Homo sapiens: one gene and its partners. The protein of the gene in region 1 interacts with the protein of each later gene in a pairwise test. Each region holds a gene or a part of one and is shown in the gene's direction. Other genes may lie near its edges. The genes, in order: MLH3, ZNF510, STX17, TBC1D2, CDK8, MAP2K1 and SFRP2.

Region 1 (3,898 bases):
GAAATCGTGTGGCCCAAAAAGCCTAAAATATTTATGATCTGGCCCTTCAGAAAACGTTCTCCGGCTTGTGATCTAAAGTGCACTGGAAGTACATTCTTTGTGGGTTTCCAAGTAGCTTGTACACCAAGGTTAGCTGATTATAACAATGTGTTGTTTAACGATCCTTTATCATATTAAAGTTGAATTAATAAGGCAAAATCAGTATTTAAACATAAGAATTATATATTCAAGCTTCAAACTTGAGGAAATGCCACTTTGACTTTTTTTTTTTTTTTTAAGATGGAGTCTCACTCTGTCACCAGGCTGGAGTGCAGTGGTGCAATCTCGGCTCACTGCAACCTACACCTCCTGGGTTCAAGCGATTCTCCTGCCTCAGCCTCCCAAGTAGCTGGAACTACAGGCGCGTGCCACCACACCCAGCTAATTTTTGTATTTTTAGTAGAGACAGGGTTTCACCATGTTGGCCAGGATGATCTCGATTTCTTGACCTCATGATCCGCCCGCCTCAGCCTCCCAGTGTGCTGGGATTACAGGTGTGAGACACTGCACCCAGCCCTGACTATGTTTTCTAAATGAGATGCTGGTGAACTAAAGAGTTTCTTAGTTTACCTTTTGTTTCCTAAAAAATGAAATTATGGGGAAAATAATAAAACTTATAGGATAAAAATTAGTAATACTGGTAATCTCTGGAGAGAGAAACTAGAAGGGGTGGGGGCAAGAGTATAAAGGAGACTTTATTAAATTCCCTTTTGTGCCTTTCAGAATTGGATCTGGGATTCAAACATATGGGATAAGTTTGCTATCATTTTCCCCATAATTTCATGTTTTAGGAAATAAAAGATACAATTGTTACTCCTCAGAATGTTTTGTCTTATGCTGTTGTTAGATAGTTTGAATTAAGTCTTCTCTGTCCTCAACACACATGATGGTTGTCGTCTTGCTCTGAGAATCAAAGTTCACAATCCTTGCTCATCTAGGTGGGAACCTGCTCGTGCTGGTGGATCAGCACGCTGCCCATGAGCGTATACGTCTGGAGCAGCTTATCATTGGTAAGGATCTGTTTGCAGCCAGAAAAAATTTGAGACTCCCAGCAGAATCAGTACACCTCAAAGAGCTTTTCTAACTGCAACTGTTGTGAGAAAGCACACTTTGTACTGTATGTTCAAAAATTAAACTAAAGTCCTGCAGTTTGGCCTGTGTTATAATTGAAAGAATGTGGTAGTTCACTAATTGAAAGATGTGAACTTATTTATGTGGTCAGAGGCATATTTGCCAGATGTTATTAACAACCCAGAAGTACGCAAGGATAGGCTGCTTACTCTGACATCCAGCACAAAGCTCTGCCCCTCCATATGCCCGGTGATCTTGGCATGCCTTCCCACACTCCATCAGGCAGAGACCAGTGGCAGCTCAGAAGGCCCAGTATGCTGTTTTGATTTTAAAATTTAGTTTGCTTTTGAATATGCAGTATAATCAAATAGATCCAATTCTGAAAGGCACAAAAGGGAATATAATAAAGTCTCCTTTCTATCCTTGTCCCCACCCCTCCTAGTTTCTCTCCCCAGAGACAACCAATATCTCTGGTTTTTAAATCTATCTTTCCAAAGCAATATATGCTTTTTAAATGTTTTTTTTTGCTACCCTTTTCCTCATCATGAGGCAGTGTGTTCACCAAGTGGTAAAATACCAGGAAAGTCTTTACTCCTGTGGCCAATGAGTAATGTCAAAGAGTTAGGCAAGGACCTAAGGAGTGCTTCATGGACTAGAATGGCAATGATATTACTACTGTTTTCACTTTTCCTTATAAAATGACGGCCTAAGAGTTGGGAAAGATATAGTAAAAACAGTGTTAGAAAAACTTACCTCTACAGGCCCTGCACCATTTGAGAATAGTACTAATTCTCTCCAGAGACTGGGAGACCCTGCTCAAGGAAAGGGAAGCCTTCTGGAGCCATAAGACTGTGTGGTCAACCCACATATGTTCCTGGTAATCCACATTATTCACCTCTGTCATCAAAACAACATTTATTAACTACAGGAACATTGGCTTGTTCATCTGAATGTAAGATGCAAGTCTTATATTTCTTATTTTGAAAAATACTACCAAAATTGTTAATAGGCTGAATATTTATTAGTTTGACTTTAAAAATGGAAATCCAAAATCTAAAACTGAACATTAAACATTCTGCTTTGCATTAGAATGATTATCTCAAGGCCGTGCTTTATTTTTATCTGAATCTAGAAGACTTCCCTTCCTACTCTTAACCCATTCATCTTTCTGCCAATAGATTCCTACGAGAAGCAACAGGCACAAGGCTCTGGTCGGAAAAAATTACTGTCTTCTACTCTAATTCCTCCGCTAGAGATAACAGTGACAGAGGAACAAAGGAGACTCTTATGGTCAGTACCACCATGAGAATGTGATGTTGATGGTATCAATTCTCACAATAATTCTGTGAGGAATAAGCATAACTATTGTTCCATTTCTCAGATGAGACCAAGAGAGGTTACAAGACTTGTCTAAGGTCATAGCAGTTATTAAGTAGTGGAGCAGGCACTCAAAGGCAGGTCGTCTGACTCCACAGGCTGTTTGTTTCCTTTTTTAAAATATATTTTTTTCTGCATCCAATCATCCATTAAAATATTTATTTTGTGAGACATGGTCTCACTCTGTTGTCCAGGCTGGAGTGCAGTGGCACAATCTCTGCTCACTGCAACCTCCACCTTCCAGGCTCAAGCAGTCCTCCCACTTCAGCCTCCCAAGTACCTGGAACTACAGGTGAGCACCACCATGCTGGACTAATTTTTGTAATTTTTTGGTAGAGATGGGTTTTCGCCATGTTACCCAGGCTGGTCTGAACTCCTAGGCTCAAGCGATCCTCCCACTTTGGCCTCCCAAAGTGCTGGGATTACAGGCGTGAGCCACTGGACCCAGCCTATTCTTTCCACTGTATCCCAGCTGAAGAGTATAGGATAGAGTTTCCCTGATAATTTTTTCCAGCAGTTGGCTTAGAACACTCTTCTCATTTCTTGGAACAGTCTGTGTTTATGCCATGCTTTGTGAAAGCAAAGTTTCTGCAGTAATTGGTCCCATTCTGCTTTGCTTTGGTGCATTCTAGACTCTTAGTTTTCATTATCGTAATCATAATGGGAAGAAAGTAAAACATTGGGATGTAAGGAAGGGGCGAATCATATAGTGAGTCACAAGATAGGATATTTTTCCTCTTCTAGGCAGCACAAATTATTGAAAATGAAAAAGAAATTTCTCCCAATATGTTTCAGGTTTGGGAATATGATACTGCCAGTAAATCTTTTTTTCCCTATGACATAATTTATATTAGAGGCAGATCTATTTACTTACATCCCGTTAGTCAGGACTTCTCAATTCCTTGGGCTGTTAATTACCTCCCTGCTTTAATGCTGATTCAAATCACTCTCAGACCTTTTCTTCATGCCAGACTCCCTTAAGTGCCAGCAGCCAGAAGTTAGCAGTTCCTCAATGAAGAAAACACACTTAGAAACAAGACTTAGACACAGATTGATTCCCAATGGAAAAGAGAAAAACAATAAAGGTTACTGTAATTCAAAAAGGAAATTTGATAATAAAAAATCCCAAACACCCACACATAAGTGTGAGAAAAACAATACGGTTGTTAAGCCCTGTGGCAGCTTTTGAAAAACTATTAAGTAGTATTTGGAACCAGTAGTGAAGTGCAAATGAAGTAGCACTCTTTTTTTTTTTAACATTTGAGGTTATCTCTTTAGGTGTTACCACAAAAATCTGGAAGATCTGGGCCTTGAATTTGTATTTCCAGACACTAGTGATTCTCTGGTCCTTGTGGGAAAAGTACCACTATGTTTTGTGGAAAGAGAAGCCAATGAACTTCGGAGAGGAAGA
Region 2 (4,600 bases), on another chromosome or scaffold:
TTTTGTGTTTTCTATTGGTGTAAATAATATTAACAGAATATTAATGTTAATTCTGTTTAAGTTGTTAGTCAAAGAAGACATACATTTTAAATAAATCAATAGGAAAATAGTCTACAATCGCCTGATGAAAAACAGCAAGGGGCCAGGCCTGGTGGCTCACCCCTGCAATCCCAGCATTTTGGGAGGCCAAGGCGGGCAGATTGCTTGAGGTCAGGAGTTCGAGACCAGCCTAAGCTACATGGTGAAACCCCATTTCTACAAAAAATACAAAAATTAGCTGGGTGTAGTGGTGGGTGCCTTTGGTCCCAGCAACTCAGGAGGCTGAGACGGGAGAATTGCATGAACCCAGGAGGCAGAAGTTGCAGTGAACTGAGATCACACCGCTGCACTCCAGCCTGGGCAACAGAGCCAGATCCTGTCTCAAAAAAAAAAAACAAAAAAACACACACACACAGCAAGGGTTCATCCACATGATCATATTAAAGATGCACATATTCAGGAGGTGCTTTCTCTGTAGTGCTGCTTGTCCCTTCTCAAAGGTCAAAGGAACATTTTTTGTAGAGAGGCCTTTTTCCCCAGCTGGTGTGATGACATTGGTAGGCAGGTAAGATGGAGGCTGCCCAGATCTCTCATGACTCCTTCCTCACCCCCAGGTTATCCTTTACGGTTCTCCACACTCTTTCAGGAGCAGCAGAAAATGAACATATCTCAGGTGAGTTAATTACTAATACCTTTTTCATCATGGATTTCATAGGTGTTTAAGGGTCCACATATTAATATGGAAATGTAGAAATGGATCAAAATCATTCAAGGAATATATAGAAAAGCAGGGCAGTAGCACAGCAGAATTGGCATGTGGAAAGATGGAGGTCGCCTGATGTTACAGATTTTCCAAAATGGAACTGCAGTTTTCATTCTTTCTGATAGCCATGGCAGAGAGCCAGACAGACAGTATTTTTTTTACAGATTTGCATTGATGAGAAGCTTAAAACCAGGCTGATTCCTCATGGAATCTAAAGTTATCAAAGTCAGGGAAAATGTCTTTGTTGGTCTTCATGTGTCAGTGCAAATCTTTCTCATAACAGCCTTGAAATAAATGCAGTATGTTGCTTCTGCTTTTTCCTCAGTGGAAGTAGACGGCTTAGTGCCAAACTCAGGCTTTTATTAATACAGTTTTTCAGTTTTATTATTAATACAGTTTTTCAGGTAATGGAAACAGACGTTCAGGTAGACAGACTGTCAAAGAAAGGAGAGATCGATGGTGTAGGCTCTGTTGATCAGAGGTGGAGAGTTTAAAAGGATTTTGTCCTGAAAAATGGGTAAGGTTTTCATTGTTGCAGTACAGGAGATTACTGCATTTTGAGAGCAGGCTAAACAAGGCATGCAAGGTCCATTAAGAATCTTTGCCTATTGCAGTTTGGACTTCCTCTTAGGGAATAATAAGAGAGGGGAGGGAGATAAAGGTTAGAGCCTTAGTATTAGTTTGCTAGGGCTGCTATAATAAAGAACCACAGACTGGGTAGATTAAACAGCAATTTATTTTCCCACCATTCTGGAGACCAGAAGTCTGAGATCAAGATGTCATCGGGGGCCGGGTGAAGTCTGAGATCAAGATGTCAACAGGGGCCGGGTGCAGTGGCTCACGCCTGTGATCCCAGCACTTTGGGAGGCCAAGGAGAGCAGATCACTTGAAGTCAGGAGTTCGAGACCAGCCTGGCCAACGTGGTGAAACCCTGTCTCTACTAAAAATATAAAAATTAGCCGGGCGTGGTGGCGGGTGCCTGTAATCCCAGCTACTCGGGAGGCTGAGGCAGGAGAATTGCTTGAACCTGGGAGGCGGAGGCTGCAGTGAGCTGAGATCGTGCTACTGCACTCCAGCCTGGGCGACAGAGCTAGACTCCATCTCAAAAAAAAAAAAACAGATGTCAACAGGTTTGGTTCCTTCTGAGAGCTGTGAGGGAAGGGCCTTGCTCCGTGGCTTAGATGTCTGTCCTCACATCATCTTTCCTCTGTATGAGTCTATGTCCAAATTTTCTTTTCCTGTAAGGAATTGAGAAATTGTTCAAATATAGAAAGATACAAAGAAATAATATAATAAATATGTTCCCACCTTCCCAAATTACCAACTATATATATTTTGCTAAATTTTTGTTTCTCTTGTATGCACTCTTTTTTCCTTTTAAAAACTTAGTTCTTTAACTGAGATGCAGTTTTAATACCAGTAAAGTGTACTCTGAAGTGTGTAACTGGATGGATTTTTACATATGTAAATTCATGTAATTTAGTACCCAGATTAAGATAACACCACTGCTCCCCTCTACAGGGCAACCACAATTCTGACCTCATATGTTAGGGAAAAAAGATAAATTCATTTTTGAATATGATACCAGTAGAATCATACAAAGTGTATTCTTTTACAGTTTTCAAGGGAATGTTTTGCTCTGTATCTTAATATTTCCCTTTTATCACTGGGCTGTATTTCATTGTATGAATAGACCATAATTTATTTCCTCATTCTCCTCTTAGTGCATTTTTTCATTTGTTTTTCCTGTTTGAGGCTATCAGGAATAAGGCTGCTGTGAATATTCTTTTGTGTCTTTGGGTATGTCCTCATTGCTTTTGGGATATACTTAGAAATGGAATTGCTGGTTCATAGAATAAACATATGTTCAGTTTTAATACATACTGCAAGTAGCTTGCCTAAGTGGTCAAATCAGTTTACATTCCCACTAGCATTCTGGCTGTACCAGATTCTGAGCAACACTTGTTATTATCAATCTTTTTGTTTTTAGCCATTTTGGTGGCTGTATAGTGTGGTATCTTATCAAAATTTATAATTTGCTTTTCTATGGTAAATACTAATGTTGGGCACCATTGTTTGTGTTTTGGACATTTAGACATCATTTCTTTTTATGTAATATATAAAGTACCTATTCAACTCTGTTTTAATTGGGTTATTTGCTTTTTTTAAGTAGGAATTATTTCAATATTTTCAGTAAATGTTTTTTGCCATGTGTGCATTACTGATGTTCTTGGATTCCATGGCTTGCTTATTCATTTTTTAAATAATATATTTGACAACAAAGTTTTTACATTTAATAAAGGTCAGATCGTCTTTTCTTTAATGGCAGTTCCTTGTGTATCATATTTGAAAGCTCTTTCCCTACTCTTAAGATCAGATATTCTCCTATATTGTTACTACATACTTGTTTATTTTAGCTTGATCTACATAGAGTTAGCTTTTGTGTTTGGTATAAGGTGAGTGTCAAGGTTCATATTTCCATACGGATATCCAGTTGCTCTAGCACCATTTGTTAGAAAGACCATCTTCTGTCAACTGAATTGCAGCTGTTTTTTGTCAGTCAAGTGACTTGTATGCGGGTCTAATGTAGACTGTATATTTTCTTCCTTTGGTCCAATTAGTTTATCTTTTTGCTAGTACTTCACTGTCATAATTACTGTTGCTTTATAGTAAGTCACAAATTTTGTGAATTTATTTACTATTTTAGGTCCTTTTCATGTTCATGGAAGTTTTATCAATTTTCACAGAAAATCCTGATGGAAAGTTTTTCAGAGTAGAGGTGAAGTCTTTCACATCTTTTATTATATTTATTCCTAGGTATTTGATCTATTTTGATAATAGCACAAATGATACTGCATTTTAAATGTCATTTTCCAGTTTATTGTTAGTTTATTAAAATACGATGGATTTTTTTAGTATTGATCTTATACCTAGGCATTTTACAAAATTCACTCATTCTAATAGCTTATCTGTGGATTCTTTTGGATTTTAAATGTGCAAAATTTTTTTTGCAATAAAGACAATTTTACTTCTTCCTTTACAGTTTTTATATCTTTAATTTCTTTTTAGCCTTACTGCTAGGACTTCCAGTAAAATGTTTAGTACAAATGGTGATAATAGAAATCCTTGTCTTATACCTCACCTGAGGGGTACTCAGTATTTCACCATTGAGTCTTATTTTAACTACATGTTTTTTGTATATGTCCTTAATTAGAATAAGGAAGTTCCCTTTTTTATTTTTAGTTTCCTGAGTTTTTTTTTTTTTAATCATGCATGAGTATTTTGTCAGATGGCTATTCTTGCTTCTAGTGAGATAATCATATTATTTTATTCCTTTAGTCTGTTAAAGAGCTGAATTATATTGATAGATTTATCAATGTTTAACCAACCTTGCATTCCTGGGATAATTCCCACATAAGGTAGTGCTATCACTTTAAGTTATTTCTGGATTCAATTTGTTAATATTTCAATTAATATTTTTGTGTCTACATTAATGGAAAGATACTGGCTTGCAGTTTTTCTGTCATGTCATGTCACGTTTTGGCGTCAACATTATATTCTCAAAAAATGAGTTTGGAAACAGTTATTCATTTTGTGTTCTCTGAATGAGTTTAAGATTGCTGTTATTTCATCCTTAAATGTTTGGAAAAATATACCTGTGAGGTAGTCTAGCATTGGAGTTTTTCTTGTGCCTGGTTTTTGCTCATGAACTCAGTTTCTTTAACAGGATATAGAAAATCCAAATCGTGCTACTTATTCTAGTGTCCTTTATTTTTAACAGCTTTATGGAGATACAAT
Region 3 (4,600 bases), on another chromosome or scaffold:
GTTCAAATAATTAGTGATCTCAGGATTGGTTTTTTGCCTGTGGTTGCTTCTTCAGTTATTCCAAATGATTTTTATGAAAAAATATTTAAATTATTTTAAAATTTTGCTTTAATTTTTAAAAAGTCATAGAAGTACAATATCCAACCCTTTTTAAAGGAAGGAACATTAGAAAGTATTTCCCTGAGGCTTTACGATTACACTTGGGGTATAGAAATGGCAATAATCCTGGCAGGCTCCTCCCTCTTGCTGGAATTATTTTGGGGCTGAAGGAAGGGAGACACTGACTATTTTTCCTCTACCTTTCAACTCATCAACATATGACGGCTGATGGTAGAGTTTTAAGCCTGTGATTTATCTGCTAGCATAGACTGTTTCAGGCAAGAGTGGAAAGTGTTGGGGGTGTCCTAAATAGAAACAATGATAGGGTGTCAGAAATCTAGACAAGTTGTATATTATTAGTGCTGGAACTTTTTCTTCTATGGGTCAGAAAAAGAAAGCTGACTTAAATAAGTTTTGCTATTGAGGAAAATAAAAATTGAATGATTGAATGAATGCTAAAAGATACCTGAAGTTTTAGTGTCCTAGAATTTTCAAGCACCGAAAGAAAAAGTTAAATATATTTTTTGATAGAGAGATGAGAGTTAACACTTCCTTGGGGAAATTAGGATAAATTTTTCTATTTTTCCCCCCTCACACTTTGCAAACACATTTTATCCCCACTTCAACTCTATGAAGGTATAAGTATCACTATTCTTACTTGATAAATGAGAATACCAACACCTAGAGAGCTTGAGTAATTTGTCTAAGAGCACATAGTGGCGTTTGCTGAGATTTGAACACAGATTATCTGACTAAAGGTGGTGCCCTTGATCTGAGCACATATAATAGTGGTTCTTAAAGTGTGAGAATTGTGGACTGGCAGCATCAGCATCACCTGGGAGCTTACTAGCTCAGGCTTCATCCCAGGCCTACTGGATCAGAAACTCCGGGGATTAGGCCCAGCAATCTGTGTTTTAAGAAGCCTCCAGGTGGAAGACTGAGAACCATTGTTAAAGTTGTCTCTCACAGAGACATTCAAAGGAAAACTGATAAGGGACTTTCTTAGGCATTGTTTTAGAGATGTCAAGATAGTGGTGGAGAATATTGGAATGAAGGGATACCACAATGGCGAAGATAGACATATTTTGTGTATGAGAAGGGAAGTAATATCAGTAATGCTAAGAGGAAACAAACATGGGGAAAAAGTAGCTGTGTGGTTTGGGCTTCATGTTTTCAAATGAAATAATGGTTGGAATTAGAAAAGTGTTGTATGTGTCTGCCTCAATATAAATGAATAGGCCAATTATATAAGGGCAATCAAACACTTCAGGATTAAAGTTGAATTATTTCACCCTCATTGCAGGTGGCATCTATCTAGGATCAAAGAGAGATTCTCTTTTTTCTGCACATTAAAAAAACAAAACCAAAATAGTCTGTAAACTGTGATGGTTGATTATATGTTGGCTTATACATTTGTTGTTTATACATTTGTGATAGTTGGTTTATACATTTGCTAAATTTCATCATACTATACCATTAAAAGCAGTACTTGTTATATGTAAATTCTATCTAAATAAAGTTGAATTAAAAATGGGAATGTGTTCCTACAGCAAGTAATGAGTTCGTGTCACTGGAGGTATCTGAGCAGAGGTTCAGTAACCACTTGTCAGGAATGTTACAGTAGGGCTTCGCACATCAGAGAGGAGATTGACCTGATGACCTCAACATTCCTTCTACCCAGAGATTCCATGAGTCACAGTTGCTGTTGTGCCAGCACAGGTGTTGCCATTTTATGTAGAATGCTTTATTAATATATTTGATCTGAAACATTTTAAACTGTCATGATTTTAAAATGTATTAAGATACACAGGTGTAAAGCACAGAACAGTGATTTCATTCACTGTTCCCTACTGCATATTACAAATGGAAAGATCTCATAATAGATCAAACCGTATTGTAGTCTTGTTCCTGAAACATAACAATTTGTATTTATTGGACCAAGGGCATTTTACTCCTAAGGTAAATGTGCCTGATTTAAACTGAATCCTCAAAGAAGGTAAGTTAGGGAGGTATTTTGGGGTTTGATTTTGTTGGGTTTTTTTTTTCCATCAAACCCAACATGACATGTAAATGCTTATTTGGATTTTTTTTTTCTGGAAAGTAGATTCATTTGGAGAATAATATGTTTGTATGTTTGAGTGAATTTTAGCGTGAGATGCTTTTTGCTGTAAAGTTGCCACCCTTTTATTACCTAATAATTAAGACCCCCCCCTTTTTTTTATGAAAGTTAATTTGTCCTTTCGACATGGCTTATCAGATGCTATTAATGAACCACTATTAAGATGGCAAGGCTGCAGTACCCAGGGCCCTGATTACAGGAATTAAAATAGTGTGTGTTGGCTCCCTGCTGCTCCCCAGCAGGACCGCTCACTCATAATTCCTTTGCATCTAGTCTCAGCAGGAGAAGATTGACAGCATTGCAGACCATGTCAACAGTGCTGCTGTGAATGTTGAAGAGGGAACCAAAAACTTAGGGAAGGTAAGATTCTGCTCCTGCTGACAAATCAATGGTACTCTGGCTCCCAGGAATCTCTAGTATTAACCCAATTGATCTGCTCTCTTCAATGTTGAGGGAACCAGCAATTAAGGAAATAAGGAAGAAATGACACATAGGTAGTGTAAGAAATCAATGTTGTAATATTCTACTCTAAGATTCATTCTATCAGGAGAGGAATTTCTTCAAAGAGAGAATAAACTGTAGCTCTGCTGTAAGGCATTTGGTGTTACCAGGGAATATTTGCAGAGGGTAAAAGTGTAAGTATGTGACAGCACACATGGAGTGGGACCATCTATTTTCCATAGGATGTTGCTTTTAACCCCAGGCACACAGCACTGAATAATTTCTGTGCAACATAAAAGCTTTGGGGGAAATCTGTGGCTGCCGAAACAGTTTAAATAAGCCAGCTAGATAGTTAGTGAATTGATTGTTTTGCAAGTAAAATCAATTTGTAGCAGTCCACTCTTTGTAGCTCAGCTCTCTAAGTTCTGAGATCTGGAGCAATTGCAGTACCTGTGGAATACTTTCTTTTCCCCCCTACAAGTACAGTCTCTAAGGTTAATTATGTACCAAGAGTTAAAGAGGCATTGCCAGGAGTAATGAGAGGAAAACGCACATCACCACAGGCAGATATTCTCAACTCAGTTTCTAAATTGAATTTTTTTTTTTTTTACAGGCTGCAAAATACAAGCTGGCAGCTCTGCCTGTGGCAGGTGCACTCATCGGGGGAATGGTAGGGGGTCCTATTGGCCTCCTTGCAGGCTTCAAAGTGGCAGGAATTGCAGCTGCACTTGGTGGTGGGGTGTTGGGCTTCACAGGTGGAAAATTGATACAAAGAAAGAAACAGAAAATGATGGAGAAGCTCACTTCCAGCTGTCCAGATCTTCCCAGCCAAACTGACAAGAAATGCAGTTAAAAACCAAATTTCAGTATTATTGGTGCCAACATGTCTATCCTGAGGACCTTTGCTGCTGTTGGACACTCCGTCACCTTTTGGAACACAAGTATATCAAGATAGTGGCTACTGATGTTCAAGTGGGATTGAAGTGTGATAAATGGATATATTTTGTTGTTTGCTGGGGTGTTCATGGAGATGTTAAGAGATTGAGGCCCTGGGCTGAGGGTATATAATGTATGTCAGGTAAAGTTTGAAGACTGCCAAGGAGCAGATTTTCTCCCTGGAAATGTGAAAACTGAACCTATAACTCTGATAAGGACTTGAGATGTGTAGAAACGTTGGGTTATGGAAGACTAGTTTCTTCCATAACCCTGAATTGGAGACCTTAATGCTAAGTGTAGATTATTGAGGTTTGTTAGTGAGGAAAAGAATAAGAGTTCAGAAGCCTTTGTTATCAGATAGCGAAATCAGGGCCTAGTGAGGAGCACAGGTCGACTACATAATGGAGTCCATTGGCGAACCCTATTGCAATTTGGTCCAACTATATCTTCTGGTGAAGGAAATTAATGATGTAAGAAAATGCAAGAGGCTCAACTTCTCTTCCAAAAATCTTCTGGCTTCTGAACTCTTCCTCTGCCTCTCTTTAAATAAATAACACAGAATTTCAAGTGGTAGGAGACTTATTAAGCCAGTCACCAAGCTTGGTCTGTCAGCCTGTCTTCTAACACCTCAAAGATCTTGTGCCCTGTGCTGTCCCTCCCTTGTAATTATGAAAAGTTCTTTGGTTTCTGGGGTGAATTCTACCCATGTATAATGAGGAATTCTCTCATAACCTTTTTTGTCTTGTCTGTCATCTCTGTTCATCCCTTCCTATAACCTCTAGGTAAAAAGAAAAGAAAAAAAGAAATTTCGAGATATTTTCAACATTGTTAGAGTTTGGGCTAAAATGAGCAAGGAGAAAAAAACCACCAAGAACATTTCCTGGGGCATGTTCCAGTTTTGAGGGGTGATATATCTGCCAGATAGGGGGTATCTGACCCAGTCTTCTTTTCAGCTGGTCTCTGGGGGGAGCTGAGAACTCGCTTGCTACCTCACATCCTTTTCCC
Region 4 (4,600 bases), on another chromosome or scaffold:
CTGGCGGCCCAGGAAGGGCTGGTCTATGTGAGCTGGCGGCTCCTCCCCAGCTGCCTTGCTGCCAGGTCCTGCCAACCATGTACAAGTCCTACACAGCACTACCTCCTCTGATCTTCACATGCATTAGTGTGCGGCTGCAGCTGAGATGGTTCACGCTCAGAGGAGGCAGCCCCCTGCCATGGCCCTATAGTACATTTGCGGCACAGGCTGCCTCCAGAGCCCCATGCTTTCCATTTATCTAGGCTGCCTCCCAAATGTGGCTGCCTCCCAGATGTGCCTGTCAGAGAGGGGACGAGGGGAGACAAGCAGGCCATCTCCTCTGCACCAAGGCCTTGCTGAGCACAGTGGACATGGGCAGTTAAATATAACAGAAAGGAGGGTGGCTATGCTCGAAGGCCCCTGGAGGCTGAGTAGTCCAGTGGCAGGAGCTCGAGCTTTGGAGCCAGCCCTGGCCCTCTCACCGTGTGACAATTCCCTTTACCTTTCTGAGCCTCGTACTCAGCCTCCATAAGATATGTGCAAAGAGCTGGGCACAGTGGCTCATGCCTGTAATTCCAGCACTTTGGGAGGCTGAGATGGGCAGATTGCTTGAGGCCAGGAGTTTGAGCCCAGCCTGGGCAATATATTGGAATCCTGTCTCTACAAAAAAAAAAAAAAAAGAAGAGTGGTGGTGCACGCCTGTAGTCCCAGCTACTCGGAAGGCTGAGGTGGGAGGATCACTTGAGCCCAGAAGGTAGAAGCTGCAATGAGCTGAGATTGCAGCACTGCAGTCCAGCCTGGGCAACAGAGTGAGGCCCTGAAAAGAAAAGAAAAGAAAGGAAGGGGGGAAGGGAGGGAAAGAAAGAAAGAAAAAGAAAGGAAGGAAGGAAGGAAGGAAGGAAGGAAGGAAGGAAAGGAAGGAAGGAAAGGAAAGAAGGAAGGAAGGAAGGAAAAAAAAAAGATTTAGGCAAACACACCTGCTTTGCAGGATCATTAGGATTAAATGAGATAGTGCAGGCAGGGCACAGAGTGGAGGTGAGTCAACATTGAATAAATCAAAGGCCTTCTGGAACGGGTCCCCAGCTGTCCCACCTGTCTGTCATTGGTGCTGTCTGTTCCCCGTCCACCCCTGCGCTTACTGGCTGTGGTAAGTGGGGTTCTGTATGCACAGTGCAGGACTCCTTGGGCCTAAGGCTGCATGGAGTAATAAGAGGGTCCTTTATATTTGCATAGAATTAGTAAATATCTCTTGGGCATTTACTGTGTACCAGGCACTATCTAGGCCCCCAGCATCTTACAACAGAGGATCTCGTTGGGTCTTTAGGAGGCAGAGCAGGGATTCCCATATGCATTATACAGATTCGCAATCTGAGGTTGGGAGAACTGAAGTGACCTGCCCAGAGCTGTGTGGTTAACCCTCAGTGAAGGCAGGGCAGGAACCTGGCCTGGGGTCCTCCCTGTCACCACCACCCCTTATCTAGGGAAGGGCTCTGCAAGGTGTTGCTAACGTGCACTTTTGCTGGCAGTAAGTATGATGAGTACGGCTTCCTGACGGTGCCCGACTATGAGGTGGAAGACCTGAAGCTGCTGGCCAAGATCCAGGCATTGGAGTCACGATCCCACCACCTGCTGGGCCTCGAGGCTGTGGATCGGCCGCTGAGGGAGCGCTGGGCTGCCCTGGGCGATCTTGTGCCCTCAGCCGAGCTCAAGCAGCTACTGCGGGCAGGAGTACCCCGTGAACACCGGCCTCGTGTCTGGAGGTGGCTGGTCCACCTCCGTGTCCAGCACCTGCACACTCCAGGCTGCTACCAGGAACTGCTGAGCCGGGGCCAGGCCCGCGAGCACCCTGCTGCCCGCCAGATTGAGCTGGACCTGAACCGGACCTTCCCCAACAACAAACACTTCACCTGCCCCACCTCCAGCTTCCCCGACAAGCTCCGCCGGGTGCTGCTGGCCTTCTCCTGGCAGAACCCCACCATCGGCTACTGCCAGGGCCTGAACAGGTAAGCCACCAAAGCCCAGTGAAGGTGTGATCTTTACCTTTTGGAGCGCAGGTCCCCAACCCTCAGACTGTGGACAGGCAGCCATCTGTGGCCTGTTAAGGGGCCGCACAGCAGGAGGTGAGCAGTGGGCGAGAGAGCATTACCACCTGAGCTCTGCCTCCTGTCAGATCAGCGGCAGCATTAGATTCTCACAGGAGCGTGAACCCTATTGTGAACTCTGCATGCGAGGGATCTAGGTTATGTGTTCCTTATGAGAATCTAATGCCTGATGATCTGAGGTGGAGCAGTTTCAAAGCCACCCCTCCCCTACCCCAGTCCATGGAAAAATTGTCTTTCATGAAACCGGTCCCTAGTGCCAAAAAGGTTGGGGACCGTTGTTTTAGAGCACTGCTGTCTCTCTTTGGAGCCTCCCAAGAACCTGAAGACATGAGCCTAGGTTCCCCACCCACAGGCTGGTGAGAGGACATGTTCAAGACAGAGATGGGCCAGAGCTCAGAGCTCCAGGCCCCTCGTCCCTGCTCTCTCCTTTGATTTGTGCTTGGGGACGTACAACTTACATGGCCTCTCAAACTTTGGCCTGCTGGAATCTACAGGGTAAGGCCCCACTCACATATGGCAGGACTCTCTGGATCAGGAATCATTCGCTTTCAGTGAAACCCATGCAGAAGACCCGGGGAAAAGAGACTTTCTAAATGTTACAAGGGGAGTTCACAGAAGCCAGGAAAAGAAAACACAGCTGAGGACCAGATGGTCATTGGAAGCCAAGGCAGCTGCTGTCTGCAGCAGGGCTGCACCCCTGCACAACCCCAGGGGGCAGCCTTCATGCCACAGTCCTGGGATGCCATGACCTGAGCTCGTATAGCACCAAGGTACTGCTCTGCTGCCCTCTGCAGCTGCATGGCCTCTGGCCTCTCTTCATTCTGCGTGTCTGCTTCCTTCTCTCTCAGCAGACCAGCCTCTGTCCATTCATTCATTGGACATTTAGGGACCATCGAAGCTGTTAGAATGGAGACCTCAGCCCCTGAGTCTTGAGCCTTTCAGTGAGTCTTCCCACCCCACCCCTCATGTTCCAGTTCTAAATTCCCCAAAGAAAAAATCTGATTGGCCCAGCCAGGAATAATTTCCACTTCTGGTCCAATTGGTAGGGGACGCAGGGAGGGACTGGGGTTAGGGGATGAGGTCACCTGGTTCACAGGGCTATCTCCCCTCCAAGACTGTGAGGGACTGTCATCCCCCCGCTCCAGCCCCAGCTATTTCAGTAGAAGCTGCATAGTTGCAAATATTTTCCCAAAGCAAGTTTTCACTCGATTTAATTTAAACACACATATACCTAAGCAAAATTTACATAAGCCATGCTGCTTTTTTTTAGAATAGGTGGTGTGTGACATTTATTTAACACAGAATCAACATTCAGTGTCCTTACTCAAATTTGAGTGGTTCCCAAAGGTAGATATTTTTCATACTCTATTTCCAGCCTAAAATTGGGTGAAATTGAGCATGTGTATGTACAATTCCTGGGAATTAAGAGTTAAACTCCAACAGTAATGCCTCTCAGTCGAAGCCTCCTTGGAAAATATGTTCAGATTTCATGCCACACTAAACGTCTGCCACAGGTCAGGTCTGTAGAAATTTCATTCATTCAACAGTCTGACAAAAGCCCCTGTACTTCTCATTTGTTTGAACATGTTAAAATCCAGAAGAAACAAAACCTGCAAAGCCTCTTCTAAGAATAGCTGTGAAGGGAGCTGGAAGCTATGAGATCAGAATGAATAATAATTTTTGCATTTCACACAAAAGCCAGGTAGGAAGTAAAGCATAATGGGGGCCTCTTGGATGCCAGGTGTTTAACACCTGATGGCATCTAATCCTCACAAAAACCTTCACTGGTGCCACCATGCCCAGATGAGACATGAGAGGGTCTGAGAGGCTGAGGAACCTGCCCGTTGTCTCACCACAAATGCTGACCCAGCCAACTGCTCACCCTGGCCCCCCGCCCCCAGCCCCCAAACCCAGTCCTTTCTACAACCTGCTCTCTCTCCAAATAGCAGTAGTCAGAGGCTGTGCTGAGGCCTCCCAGAAACCTTTCCCCTATGTGGATGTAACCTTCTCGAGACCTGCTTTTGGAGTTCAACCTGTGCTGAAGGGGCAGAGAAAAATCCTATGGCAGGAGGGGCACTTGAGATAAGCCTCATAGGAGGAGAGAAGCTTCTCCCTGTGTGGAAGGAGGCAGCACACAGGCCACAGAGAGGCGCAGAAGGGACAACTGAGGCCAAGAGAGGCGGAAGGTCCCCAGACGGGTTTTCTAAAATATCTTTCTCTGAATAGCATTTTTACTTAAATTTGATATGCAAATGCAGATAATTGGTATTCATGTAAATATTTACTGCTTAAAACAGAAAGTTACTTGTAATAGGCCAGGCACAGTGGCTCACGCCTGTAATCCCAGCACTTTGGGAGGCTGAGGCAGGCAGATCACGAGGTCAAAAGATCGAGACCATCCTGGCCAACATGGTGAAACCTTGTCTCTACTAAAAATACAACAATTAGCTGCCTCAGGAGGCTGAGGCAGGAGAATCACTTGAACCAGGGAGGCAGAGGTTGCAGTGAGCCGAGATCGC
Region 5 (4,600 bases), on another chromosome or scaffold:
CCGGGAAGTTACAGAGGGAACTGACTTGGGTGCAAAGGATTGAAACCAAGGTAAGTGCCATTTTCTCAGCAGTGGTGATTCCAACCCACACCGTCGTCTGGTGTACACCTGCTTGCCCAAGATCAGTCTTGGGGAACACTTTCTTCTATTGAAACATTGATTCAAAATTTATAATATACACAAACCACTTTCAATTTAAGTTTCTAAAAATAAGGTCAGGCACGGTGGCTCACACCTGTAATCCCAGCACTTTGGGAGGCCAAGGTGGGCAGATCACTTGAGGTCAGGGGTTCGAGACCACCCTCACCAACATGGTGAAACTCCGTCTCTACTAAAAATACAAAAATTAGCCAGGCATGGTGGCGGGCACCTGTAATCCCAGCTGCTCAGGAAGCTGAGGCAGGAGAATTGCTTGAACCTGAGAGGCGGAGGTTGCAGTGAGCAGAGATCACGCTACTGCACTTCAGCCTGGGTGGCAGAGCTAGGCTCTGACTCATAAAAAGTAAAAATAAAATAAAAATAAGAAGGAATTACAAAATGGAACCTTTTCTTTAATACCAGCCTCTACCACACAATCCCATTCCTCCTGTCTCCTGCAGAGGTAGCCTAAAGATTAAAATACTCAACAAATTTCTCACACCACCATTAAAGCTGCTTACCAAGAACTTCCCCAGCATTTTGACTTCCTTGTTTGATAGCTGAATTGTGAGCAGGTGATAGAAGAGCCTTTCTAGTTGAACATACAGATAATTTGCTGAATACATTCCATTTAATGAAGGGGTTACATCTGTTACGAAGCTACTAAGAAGGAGCAAAAGCATAGGGAAAAAAATCTGATCAGAACGCATCAAACTCACATATGCCCCATCTACTACAAACAGATTGTAGTGCTGTGCTGGTTTATTCCGTTGTGCAGAACTGCAAGCTGAGTCACTAAACCAAAGAGAGGAAATAATAGGTTAGTAAACATTGTAATCCCAGGAACTAAGTTTAATTCACTTTTGAGTGTTTTGTTTTTTATTTTTGTTTGTCTGATTTACTTTGGGGAAAAGGCTAAAAAAAGGGATATCAATCTCTAATTCAGTGCCACTAAAGTAGTCCTAAAAGTCTTACTGAAGTATGGACTTTTAAGCTCAGGTGTTTGTCCTCAAATAGCTGCATGGCCACTAAATGTGAGGCATTCTGCTAAGTGGGAAATACACATTAAAATAGAGAAAATGAGAATTTCTTCCCTTTTATCAAAACAAGAAGCTTGCTATTACTACACTTGTTGATTCAAATATTATTGAGCAAAGTCTTTTCTCCTCCCAAATTTGGTCTGTATAGCATGCCAATTCCTACTATTTCCTTTGCCTGGTTAGCTCAGTAGCTACCTATAAGCATCACACATTTTGAGAAGTAGATGAAACTTATATGTTTTTAATTTGGAAAGCCATTTTATAAGGAGTTTGGCAGGCAGGTGAACACTAAAGAGACTTTCCATGAATTGGGCACAATCTAAAAAAAAAAAAAAAACAAGGTAGGAAAAAGAAACTTATTTACAATAATTAGAAATTTATCTGCAATAATAGCCTGATCAGCTGACTCAGAGTTAATGATTAATGTATGGGTCAGGATTTTGAAGAAAGGAAGAATGGTAAAATTGACAAAGGTGAGAGAGAATAGCAGTTATAAAGACAGAAGAGTTACTAGATGGGAGGGAGTTAAGCAAGGTTCAATAAGTTATTTTTCCTGTTGACTGGACTTTTTCTTTAAAAAGCAGTGTAGCTTTGCATACATTTTTTCTGTGAAATAGGGTCTTGCTATGTTGTCAAGGCTGGATTCAAACTCCTGGGCTCAAGCGATCCTCCCGCCTCAGCCTCCTGAGTAGCTGGGACTACAGGCATATGCCAGTATGCTCAGCTAAGAGCAGTGTAGCTTTAATTATAGCTAAACTACTTACCTTTCATCTTCCTTTACATATTTTATTTTCTTCTTTGGAATTTTTAATAACTAACCAGATGAATTGTTACAGTGTTTATTGGGTGTGCTGTAAGTAGAATTTTAAACATGCAAAGCCATCCATCATCCCTTTTTGTGATCCTACTTAGCTGCCTATGTGGCCATTGATTATCAAAGGTTAGATTTATAGGGTATACCCATATAAAAAGAATAATCACAAAATAATTAATTTTCCCATATACCTTTCGATGACAAAAACAAAATAGGTTGGCCTATGTTTCTTGATGAGACTTTTCCATATGATGGTATTGGCTAGGCTTGGTTCTCTGATATGTAAATACGATGTCATTTTTTAAAATCACTTGCTGCAGTCAGTGTGAATCTTTAAGTAAATAGGTGATTAACTTGTTACTTTGAAATGTAAATATGTGAAATTTTAGATTAAATTAAATATCTCTATTCCAGTTTTGGAATTTAGGAATTCTCATTTTAGGTTTTTTCTTATTTCCTGTTTAAGTGACAGTTATTAACATATCTGAACAATCAGCTTTGATAAAATAGTAATTTTGATTTGTTCCCTTTGGTTATTTATATTTGTCACAGGTATTGGTTAAGTCAGTCAAAAACCATGTGTTGAGGGTCTGCTATATGCACACCATTGTACTTAGTTTAGGATTTGTTAAGAGTAGAAATGAAATATTTTCAGCTTTAAATTCTAAATTGGCAAATAGATCTTACCTCTACTAATAGTTCTTTTGAGTACAAATTTAATTTGAATGAAAGTAAATCTGTATCTTGTGAATGAAAGGAATTTACTTTGTTGTGTACAGAGAAACCCATTTGCCTGGCTTTTGTCAATAATTCATTTGAATTTATAACCCTTTTTTTTTTTTTTTTTTTTTGAGACGGAGTCTTGCTCTGTCGCCCAGGCAAGAGTGCAGTGGCGCGATCTCGGCTCACTGCAGCCTCTGCCTCCCGGGTTCAAGCAATTCTCCTGCCTCAGCCTCCTGAGTAGCTGGGACTATAGCCGCGTGCCGCCATGCCCAGCTAATTTTTGTATTTTTAGTAGAGACAGGATTTAACTATGTTGGCCAGGCTGGTCTTGATTTCCTGACCTCGTGATCCGTCCTCCTCAGCCTCCCAACATGCTGGGATTATAGGCATGAGCCACCACACCCGGCCGAATTTATAATCCATGTTAACAGTAATATTTTGCTTTTGCTTCCTGTCCTTTGCATTAAATACTTAAATTTGCAAAATCTGATACTGCTTATGGCATCAAGAACCACTTTGGAAAAAAAACTTTGTTAAAGTAGAAATGCTGTTAATTCTTAGGCGTTTTGAGGTCGGACATTGTCTCTTGGTGGAATACCACCTTACTGATTAGTGCTAACATGAGAGGGTAATTATTAGACCTTGCAAATTAGCAAGTAAATAAAATAAAAAATATTTTATCACAAAAATTTACACTGATTATGTTAGGCGAGTGCCCAATTTCAAATACTGTTTGGGTTTTCCGTTTGTTTTTGTTTAGTTTTCTTTGGTTGTAGTTCCCATGCTCCATATGCAGCTTTACTGTAGTTCACAGAAAAGGTATCACCTGGACATTGAAAACTCACCAAAATCCAGCCAGTACATTTAATTGGGCTTAGAGTGAAACCATTTGGGTGGTATGGAGGTATACAGAATGAAAAATCGGGGTGGAGGGCATGGGAATATATACTTATAATAATGTTTCATGGTATTTAGTAATTATAATTGCTTAGGAATTAATATGAGTTATTAGGGAAAGAAAGAAAAAAACACTCCCCAAGAAAATAAAATTGCATTTTCTTTTGGAAAGAACCACTTTATTTTGCACCTTTCTTTTTCTTTTTTCCTTGCCTATTTTTCTTTCTTTTTTTTTTTCTTTTTGTTTTAAAGATATTTGGGCTATAGGGTGTATATTTGCAGAACTACTAACGTCAGAACCAATATTTCACTGTCGACAAGAGGACATCAAAACTAGTAATCCTTATCACCATGACCAGCTGGACAGAATATTCAATGTAATGGGATTTCCTGCAGGTACACATTATTCGTTTTTGTTTTTGTTTTTAAATCACTGTTGTTTGAACTTAGATGTCTTCGTTGGAGAGGTATATATTTTTAGCTGATGGAAGCTACTTTTACTTGAGTCTTTGTTTTTTGACTTGCATTTATCAAAGATCCGTAGAAACAGCAAAATTTGTAGAGTTTACATATTGGCATGGAAATATTTATGGGTTTCCTGAATTTCAGGACTGTATTTTTGTTTCATCTTGTTTTACTTTTTTGTTTTGTTATTTGGTATTTGAAATGATAAAATATGTTCAATATCTGTATTAAAAAGGTACCTTTAGCTCTTACCAGTAGAAACTATAAATGAATTCAGTAGTAGGAATTTTTTTCTGGCAGCACATATAATACTGCCACTATTTGGCATTCAAATATAAATTTTGAACCTTATTTCTATTTAGGGCACTATACAGAATCACATTATATTGAATAATAGCATTTAAGTCTTCTCTTAGAACAGTCACAATGTGGGTGAGAGTCATAGTACCCTATGGTGAGTTAGCCTGCTGTTTTGCAACAGAGAGATGGTTTACATGTATCCTATCCCTGGTATTAGATCTCT
Region 6 (3,500 bases), on another chromosome or scaffold:
GTGATCTGCCCTCCTTGGCCTCCCAAAGTGCTGGGATTACAGGTGTGAACCACCGCACCGGCTATTAATCTCTTTCTTTAAAACAATACCGTTAATCCAGTTGCAGTAGTGAGGCAGGGTACCTCTCAAGATCTCACTTTTTCTTTGACCTTGGGCAAGTCCTTTCTACTTTCTGACTCTTGGTTTCCTTAATCTGTAAAGTGGAGGTGATAATTGTTTACAAAATCTTTACCATGGTGGCCTACAAGGCCCTACCTGACCAGGTCCTTAGTTTTCTTCCAGTGTTCTCTTCACTCATGCACTCTAGCCACACTGTCCTTTGTGCTGTTGGGTTGTAGGTTGGGCACATTCTTATCTTAGAATCTTTGCATTTGCCATTCCTGCTGCCTGGAAAGCTTGTCTCTCAAATACCGTATGACTTGCTTCCTCACTTCCTTCACCCCTCTGTTGAAATGTCTCTTCACAGAGGCCATCTTTGATCACTGTAATACAGAACTCCCTGTCATTTTCTACCCTTTGATTTTGCCTTATTTTTCTTTGTAGCGCTGATCACTAACTGATGTTACATCGTGTATAAGTATTTATCTTCTTCTGCCACCCCAAGTGTAAGCTTCATGATGGTTGGGGCTTTGCCTTGTTCATTGCTCAGTGTGTAGAACAGATTCTGGCACATAGAAAATACTCAGTAGATACCTGTTGATTAAATGATTGACTAGATCCTACCTCAGAGGAATACCTTTGAAGATGTATAAAATTTCTTTGAAGGCTATAAGGTGCCGAATAACCTTAGGAGGGTTCACTGCTTGGCCTTAGTAGCGTTCATGATTTTGGATTTTGAATTGTTTCTATGTAACCCTGAAACACTCAGACTTACTTATTGCATTCAGGGTGTAGTTCATAGCATCAGCAGTTCTGCCAGGTTTGTAAGGAACACACATCTGTTAGAGTGTGAAGGCCCTGGAGGAAGAAAGGTTGAGACAGGTTGATGTGCTTTTTTTTGTCTCTTATGGCTCTTTCTGAGATGTGTACCATGATGATAACCAGGAACTTTTTTTTTTTTTTTTTTTTTGAGAGACAGGGTCTTGCTCAGACACTCAGGCTGGAGTGCATTGGTGCTCACTATAACCTTGAACTCCTGGGTTCAGGGAATCCTCCTGCTTCAGCCTCCTAAGTAGCTAGTACTACCGGCATGTACCACCATGCCTGGCTAATTTTAAAATTTAGAGATAGGGTCTTGCTGTATTGCCCAGGCTGGGCTCAAACTCCTTGCCTCATGCAATCCTCCCTCCTTGGCCTCCCAAAAGTGCTGGGTTTACAGGCATGAGCCACCATGTCTGGCCTGATAAGTAGGAGCTTTTGAAGTGGTTTCACACTGATTTTGTAGTTTTGAACTTGGATGCTTCTTTTGGGTAGTTGATGCAGTAACTAATACTGGTGCTGTCTTTCAGAACAGCTTCATGTGAAAAAGGCCTGCTTAAGCCTGTGTCTTTGGGAAGAACATCTCTGCCGCTGTTACAGCAGATACAGTAATAGCAAAGAAAGTCTTAAAGATGATTTAGCCCATGGCAAGGAAATATATGGGACTCTTGTTTGAATATAAACACTCACAGAATTCCAGTTTCACTTATTTATGCACCTTTCAAAGAAAGGAAGAAGATACTGTGGTAGAGTACAGTAGTCCTCCCTTATCTGAGTGGCATATGTTCCAAGACCCCTAGTGGATGCCTGAAACCACAGATATCAATAGTACCAAACCCTGCATATACTGTGTTTTTTCCTATGCAGTATATGCCTATGATGAAGTTTAATTTATAAATTAGGCATAGTAAGAGATTAACAATAATAACCAATAAAAAAGAATTATAACAATATATTGTAATGACAGTTACATGAATGTGGTTACTGTACTCACTGTGGGTAACTGGAATTGTCAAAGCAAAACTACATTTAAGTGGGTACTCCTGTAGCTGTTGGCCCTGCCTTGCCTATCTAGCTTAATTTTCCTCTGTTTTTCCGTTCACCTGCTGTGGTCCACTTACCACTTTCTTTACTCTCCTCACTGTGCCACCAGCATACTGTTGCTTACCTTCTTACATCTGTCTGGTCTTGCTGACATGGTTTTTTTTTTTGTCTGAAATGCCCTCCTCCACTTTCTTGCATGATTTTTTTTTTTTTTTTTTTGAGACGGAGTCTCACTCTGTCACCCAGGCTAGAGTGTGCAGTCACATGATCTTGGCTCACTGCAACCTCTGCCCACTGGGCTCAAGTGAGTATCGTGCCTCAGCCTCCCGAGTAGCTGGGATTACAGGCGCACACCACCACGCCGGGCTAATTCTTGTTATTTTTAGTAGAGACGGCGTCTCACCATGTTGCCCAGCCTGGTCTCGAACCCCTGACCTCAGGTGATCCACTGCCTCAGCCTCCCAAACTGCTGGGATTACAGGCGCCTGGCCCTCTTGCATGTTTTTATTTTTGTTTTATACTTGCCACTACACTTTAACTTCTGTGAAAACAGGGACTGTGATTGTCTTGTGTACTGGTATTTCTCCACCGTCTGCTGTGGGGCCTAGAATAAAATAAATGGTACCCATCTTTTTTGTTTTGTTTTGTTTTTGGAGATGAGTCTCACTCTGTCCCCAGACTGGAGTGCAGTGGCGCGATCTCGCCTCAGTGCAACCTATGCCTCCCGGGTTCAAGCGATTCTCCTGCCTCAGCCTCCCAAGTAGCTGGGCTACAGGTATGCGCCACCACATCTGGCTAATTTTTGTATTTTTAGTACAAAATTTAAAAATGATGGCCTCGATGTCGTGATCCGCCCTCCTCGGCCTCCCAAAGTGCTGGGATTACAGGTGTGAGTCACCGTGCCCGGCCCTTTTGTTTTTTTGAGATGGAGTTTCACTCTTCTCATCCAGGCTGGAGTGCAGTGGCATGATCTTGGCTCACGGCCACCTCCGCCTCCCACATTTTCCTGCCTCGGCCTCCCAAGTAGCTATGATAACAGGCACACACCACCATGGCCGGCTAATTTTTTTATTTTTAGTAGAGACAGGATTTCACCATGTTGGTCAGGCTGGTCTCGAACTCCTGACCTCAGGTGATATGCCTGCCTCAGCCCCACAAGGTGCTGGGATTACAGGCGTGAGACACCGTATCTGCCCCGGATGGTACCGATCTTTCAAGATCTTACATAAAGCTTATCTCCAATGTGTGTAGTCTTTTCTGAGCAACTCCATGCCATGCTCAGTTACATCACTCCCTACTTAGTTATAATAGTTCTTTTTTCTTTTTTTGAGACAGAGTTTTGCTCTTGTTGCCCAAGCTGGAGTGCAATGGCGTGATCTCGGCTCACTGCAACCTCTGCCTCCTGGGTTCAAGCGATTCTCCTGCCTCAGCCTCCCAAGTAGCTATGATTATAGGCGCACACCACCACTCCCAGCTAATTTTTGTATTTTTAGTAGAGGCAGGGTTTCACCATGTTGGCCAGGCTGGTCTTGAACTCC
Region 7 (4,097 bases), on another chromosome or scaffold:
ACTGTGCTCCTGAAGTACAAGGGAAATTCAGTGGTGCAAGTACTGGTGAATAAAAAATGGTTCAGAACTACCTTCCTATATATACAACCTATTGTAGGACCAGAAAGTATCATCACCTCTGCCTGCGATCACATCCTGCATCCTCAGTCACATCCTCCAGGACAGGAAAGGTTATGTGGGGGATTCAATTCTCTCTGTTTGGGCCTAGCTGAAAATCCAGGGAGAAAATCCCTAATGTTTTCTCATGATAAACATTTGCAAAATTAGTTATTTTAGAGCTAGACAAAGATGACTAAAAAATCTTCCTCCTGGTTAAAAGTGATGGTTTTTTCTGATGTTTGGAGCTTGAGAATGTTTCATTTGGCCAGGTGAAATCTTATATATGCCCTACCTGTACTACAGACAAGGCTCCCAGGTAAAGTGTAATCAGTCCATTTCTCCCACCATGGTGAGGTCTATCCAACACCCTACTCCCAATGCAGAGGACACAAAAGCATGAAACATTTCCACAAGTATGGCTTATTCCACGACTTGAGTCTCAAAAACTGAGAATTCAGTACCACAGTTCAGATGCATATCATACCAGACAAAACCATGGTTGGCCAAGTCATAGCATTTTTGATTTACCTGCTAGAGATTCTATAATTTCCTGGTTGACTAGAAAGCCATACTCAGTCAAATTCCCATTCTGATATTTAAAAAAAAAAAAAAGAAAATCTCAAAAACAGTTGTACGCAACACAGAAAAATCTTCCTCTATTACTAATTTAAACATAGATTAAACTCCATCAAAGTCAGGAAGTCATACTTACACATCATCTATACAGAATAGCTGTCAGGGGCACACAGGGTCTTAGGACACATTGCAGCTGGGCAAGTTTATGCTGCAACCACTACAAAAACATGGACATTGCCTCAAGACACCACAGTGGTATTACAGGAGGAGGTTTGGCAACTGGAGTTCTAGCAAACAACCTAAACTGGGTGACCTCATGCAAGTCACTAAACTTCTCTGGATTTAAGATTCTTTGTGTATTAACAAGCAATTTTAATGGGATGATCCCTTCTAACCTTAAAATTCTATTCTTTTCCTGCTTTCATGGAGTCTTGAAATTTAATTCCAGCATACACGTTTGTAGGGCTTTCTTTCCCAGAGCATACTGTTCATGACTATAAAACGTGTCCTTTATAGTAAACCACTTACTTTTGGTCTTCGCATTCTAACGAGTCTACATATACATTTTGGAAACAGTACATATATGATCCGTAAACGCCTTGGCCTTGGACTGGCAAATGAGAGCATATAAGGATGAGGTCTTCAGAAAAACACTTTTATGACTAACCACGTTGTGCTGTTAAAAAGAGACTTGCATATTGTTTCTCCTGCTTTACCAAATCAAATGCAGCTGTAAGATCAATTCTCCTTCCCTGTAATCTGATCTTTAGAAAACAATGATTGCGTGACACAGTTTCCTTACAGGTTTGTCCAAAAACCTCTTGCATAATAAATTGAGTTTAAACTTTACGGCCACAGAGGGATCATATTTCACCTAAAAGTCAGGCATTTCTTTTCATGCTTAAGTTTCCAACAGAGGAAGTCATTTGTTGGAGAGAGCACACACCACATGCAACTTTCTTACAAACACAAGGGTGAGTGAGGAAAGGAGAAGAAAAGTTAATTGAGTCCCGCAAAGAGAGAGTTTTGAAAAAATGGCTGATTGGAAACCAAGTGCCTGGCAAATGCTTTGAGGCTTTAGCAGTGGAGCCACCTGCTGCCCCTAGCTCCCAACCCCCGATCTGCAGCCTCTGAGGGTCCCATTAGCTCTAGGAAGCCTCTCTTTCCTCATCCAGGCCAAGTCACACGAGTTGGCAGAATGGGGGGAGGTATACTGTATTCCCTCATTATAACTGGCATGACTCTTTCTGCCCTCCCTCATAGCACTGAAAATAAAAGTGAAGGAGATAACCTACATCAACCGAGATACCAAAATCATCCTGGAGACCAAGAGCAAGACCATTTACAAGCTGAACGGTGTGTCCGAAAGGGACCTGAAGAAATCGGTGCTGTGGCTCAAAGACAGCTTGCAGTGCACCTGTGAGGAGATGAACGACATCAACGCGCCCTATCTGGTCATGGGACAGAAACAGGGTGGGGAGCTGGTGATCACCTCGGTGAAGCGGTGGCAGAAGGGGCAGAGAGAGTTCAAGCGCATCTCCCGCAGCATCCGCAAGCTGCAGTGCTAGTCCCGGCATCCTGATGGCTCCGACAGGCCTGCTCCAGAGCACGGCTGACCATTTCTGCTCCGGGATCTCAGCTCCCGTTCCCCAAGCACACTCCTAGCTGCTCCAGTCTCAGCCTGGGCAGCTTCCCCCTGCCTTTTGCACGTTTGCATCCCCAGCATTTCCTGAGTTATAAGGCCACAGGAGTGGATAGCTGTTTTCACCTAAAGGAAAAGCCCACCCGAATCTTGTAGAAATATTCAAACTAATAAAATCATGAATATTTTTATGAAGTTTAAAAATAGCTCACTTTAAAGCTAGTTTTGAATAGGTGCAACTGTGACTTGGGTCTGGTTGGTTGTTGTTTGTTGTTTTGAGTCAGCTGATTTTCACTTCCCACTGAGGTTGTCATAACATGCAAATTGCTTCAATTTTCTCTGTGGCCCAAACTTGTGGGTCACAAACCCTGTTGAGATAAAGCTGGCTGTTATCTCAACATCTTCATCAGCTCCAGACTGAGACTCAGTGTCTAAGTCTTACAACAATTCATCATTTTATACCTTCAATGGGAACTTAAACTGTTACATGTATCACATTCCAGCTACAATACTTCCATTTATTAGAAGCACATTAACCATTTCTATAGCATGATTTCTTCAAGTAAAAGGCAAAAGATATAAATTTTATAATTGACTTGAGTACTTTAAGCCTTGTTTAAAACATTTCTTACTTAACTTTTGCAAATTAAACCCATTGTAGCTTACCTGTAATATACATAGTAGTTTACCTTTAAAAGTTGTAAAAATATTGCTTTAACCAACACTGTAAATATTTCAGATAAACATTATATTCTTGTATATAAACTTTACATCCTGTTTTACCTATTCTTTGTCTTCTGTCTTGTCTTCTTAGTAAAAGGAACTGGGAATGGAGCTATGTATGGGTGGTCACTTCCTTCCATGAGCCCAGCCCTCCAGCAGTTTAAAGTGATCTACTTCTCAAGTGACTCAGAAAGTGTCTCCCCCTCCACCACCATGCCCCACATCTCACAGATTTCACCACTTTCACCCTGTGGAAGCAGCGACTTGCAGCCTCTAGAAAGGGGTTGCCTTCTTTTGACCCTTCTGAGCAGTCCAGCTGCAGCTATGTGGAAACATTACCCTAAACTTAAGGTTTATGAGCTTTACAGTTGTGCTTTTCATTTCCTGAGATTTTTCATACCGAAAAAGAATCACCACTGCAAAAATGTTAATTCCTTCCCCGACTCAAATCTAACCCTCAGATAGAGAGAGCCATGATTTGGAGAGTATCCACTGGAATGCAAGGAGGAGGAAGGGGATGGTGAAAACTTGAACTAGGGTAAAAAAGGAGAGACAGACATCTGTCCATTAAATGTCTCTTAGTCCTTTCCAACTGCTATAACAAAATACCATATACTGGGTAGTTTATAAACAACAGAAATTTACTTCTGACAGTTCCAGAGGCTGCAAAGTCCAAGATCAAGGTGGCGGCAGATTTTGGTGTCTAATGAGGGCTTTCTGCTTCACAGATGGTGCCTTCTTGCTGTGTCCTCACGTGGCAGAAAGGGTGAACAAACTCCCTCTAGCCTATTTTAAAAGGGCACTAATCCTATTCATGGGGCTCAACCTTTGGTCATGTTTTGAGGAGTTAGCAGCTCTGGCATCACCCAAATGTCTGCCTCTTGTCATATATAGTCATGTTTCACTTAAAAACAGGGGAGTGTTCTGAGAAACACATTGTGAAACCATTTTGTCATTCAGTGAACATCGTAGAGTGTACACACACAGTCCTAGATGGTATAGCCTACTACACATCTAGGCTATAGAGTAGAGTCTATTGCTCCTAGGCTACAGACCT

Evidence for each region.
Region 2: the proteins of MLH3 (region 1) and ZNF510 interact in a two-hybrid assay, tested with the Homo sapiens proteins (one large-scale study listed by BioGRID and IntAct).
Region 3: the proteins of MLH3 (region 1) and STX17 interact in a two-hybrid assay, tested with the Homo sapiens proteins (one large-scale study listed by BioGRID and IntAct).
Region 4: the proteins of MLH3 (region 1) and TBC1D2 interact in a two-hybrid assay, tested with the Homo sapiens proteins (one large-scale study listed by BioGRID and IntAct).
Region 5: the proteins of MLH3 (region 1) and CDK8 interact in a two-hybrid assay, tested with the Homo sapiens proteins (one large-scale study listed by BioGRID and IntAct).
Region 6: the proteins of MLH3 (region 1) and MAP2K1 interact in a two-hybrid assay, tested with the Homo sapiens proteins (one large-scale study listed by BioGRID and IntAct).
Region 7: the proteins of MLH3 (region 1) and SFRP2 interact in a two-hybrid assay, tested with the Homo sapiens proteins (one large-scale study listed by BioGRID and IntAct).

Annotation. Positions count from the first base shown.
Region 1 is NC_000014.9:75,030,570-75,034,467, reverse strand, and holds part of MLH3 (DNA mismatch repair protein Mlh3), read left to right. Parts: intron 1-977; coding exon 978-1,049; intron 1,050-2,288; coding exon 2,289-2,400; intron 2,401-3,752; coding exon of another isoform or gene 3,753-3,765; coding exon 3,766-3,898. UniProt on the Homo sapiens protein: Probably involved in the repair of mismatches in DNA.
Region 2 is NC_000009.12:96,770,900-96,775,499, reverse strand, and holds part of ZNF510 (zinc finger protein 510), read left to right. Parts: intron 1-653; coding exon 654-712; intron 713-4,600. UniProt on the Homo sapiens protein: May be involved in transcriptional regulation.
Region 3 is NC_000009.12:99,965,162-99,969,761, forward strand, and holds part of STX17 (syntaxin-17), read left to right. Parts: intron 1-2,491; coding exon 2,492-2,578; intron 2,579-3,272; coding exon 3,273-3,512; 3' UTR 3,513-4,600. UniProt on the Homo sapiens protein: SNAREs, soluble N-ethylmaleimide-sensitive factor-attachment protein receptors, are essential proteins for fusion of cellular membranes.
Region 4 is NC_000009.12:98,206,050-98,210,649, reverse strand, and holds part of TBC1D2 (TBC1 domain family member 2A), read left to right. Parts: intron 1-1,505; coding exon 1,506-1,982; intron 1,983-4,600. UniProt on the Homo sapiens protein: Acts as a GTPase-activating protein for RAB7A. Signal effector acting as a linker between RAC1 and RAB7A, leading to RAB7A inactivation and subsequent inhibition of cadherin degradation and reduced cell-cell adhesion.
Region 5 is NC_000013.11:26,389,503-26,394,102, forward strand, and holds part of CDK8 (cyclin-dependent kinase 8), read left to right. Parts: intron 1-3,864; coding exon 3,865-4,008; intron 4,009-4,600.
Region 6 is NC_000015.10:66,393,412-66,396,911, forward strand, and holds part of MAP2K1 (dual specificity mitogen-activated protein kinase kinase 1), read left to right. Parts: intron 1-3,500. UniProt on the Homo sapiens protein: Dual specificity protein kinase which acts as an essential component of the MAP kinase signal transduction pathway.
Region 7 is NC_000004.12:153,779,597-153,783,693, reverse strand, and holds the end of SFRP2 (secreted frizzled-related protein 2 precursor), read left to right. Parts: intron 1-1,938; coding exon 1,939-2,243; 3' UTR 2,244-3,103; downstream 3,104-4,097. UniProt on the Homo sapiens protein: Soluble frizzled-related proteins (sFRPS) function as modulators of Wnt signaling through direct interaction with Wnts. They have a role in regulating cell growth and differentiation in specific cell types.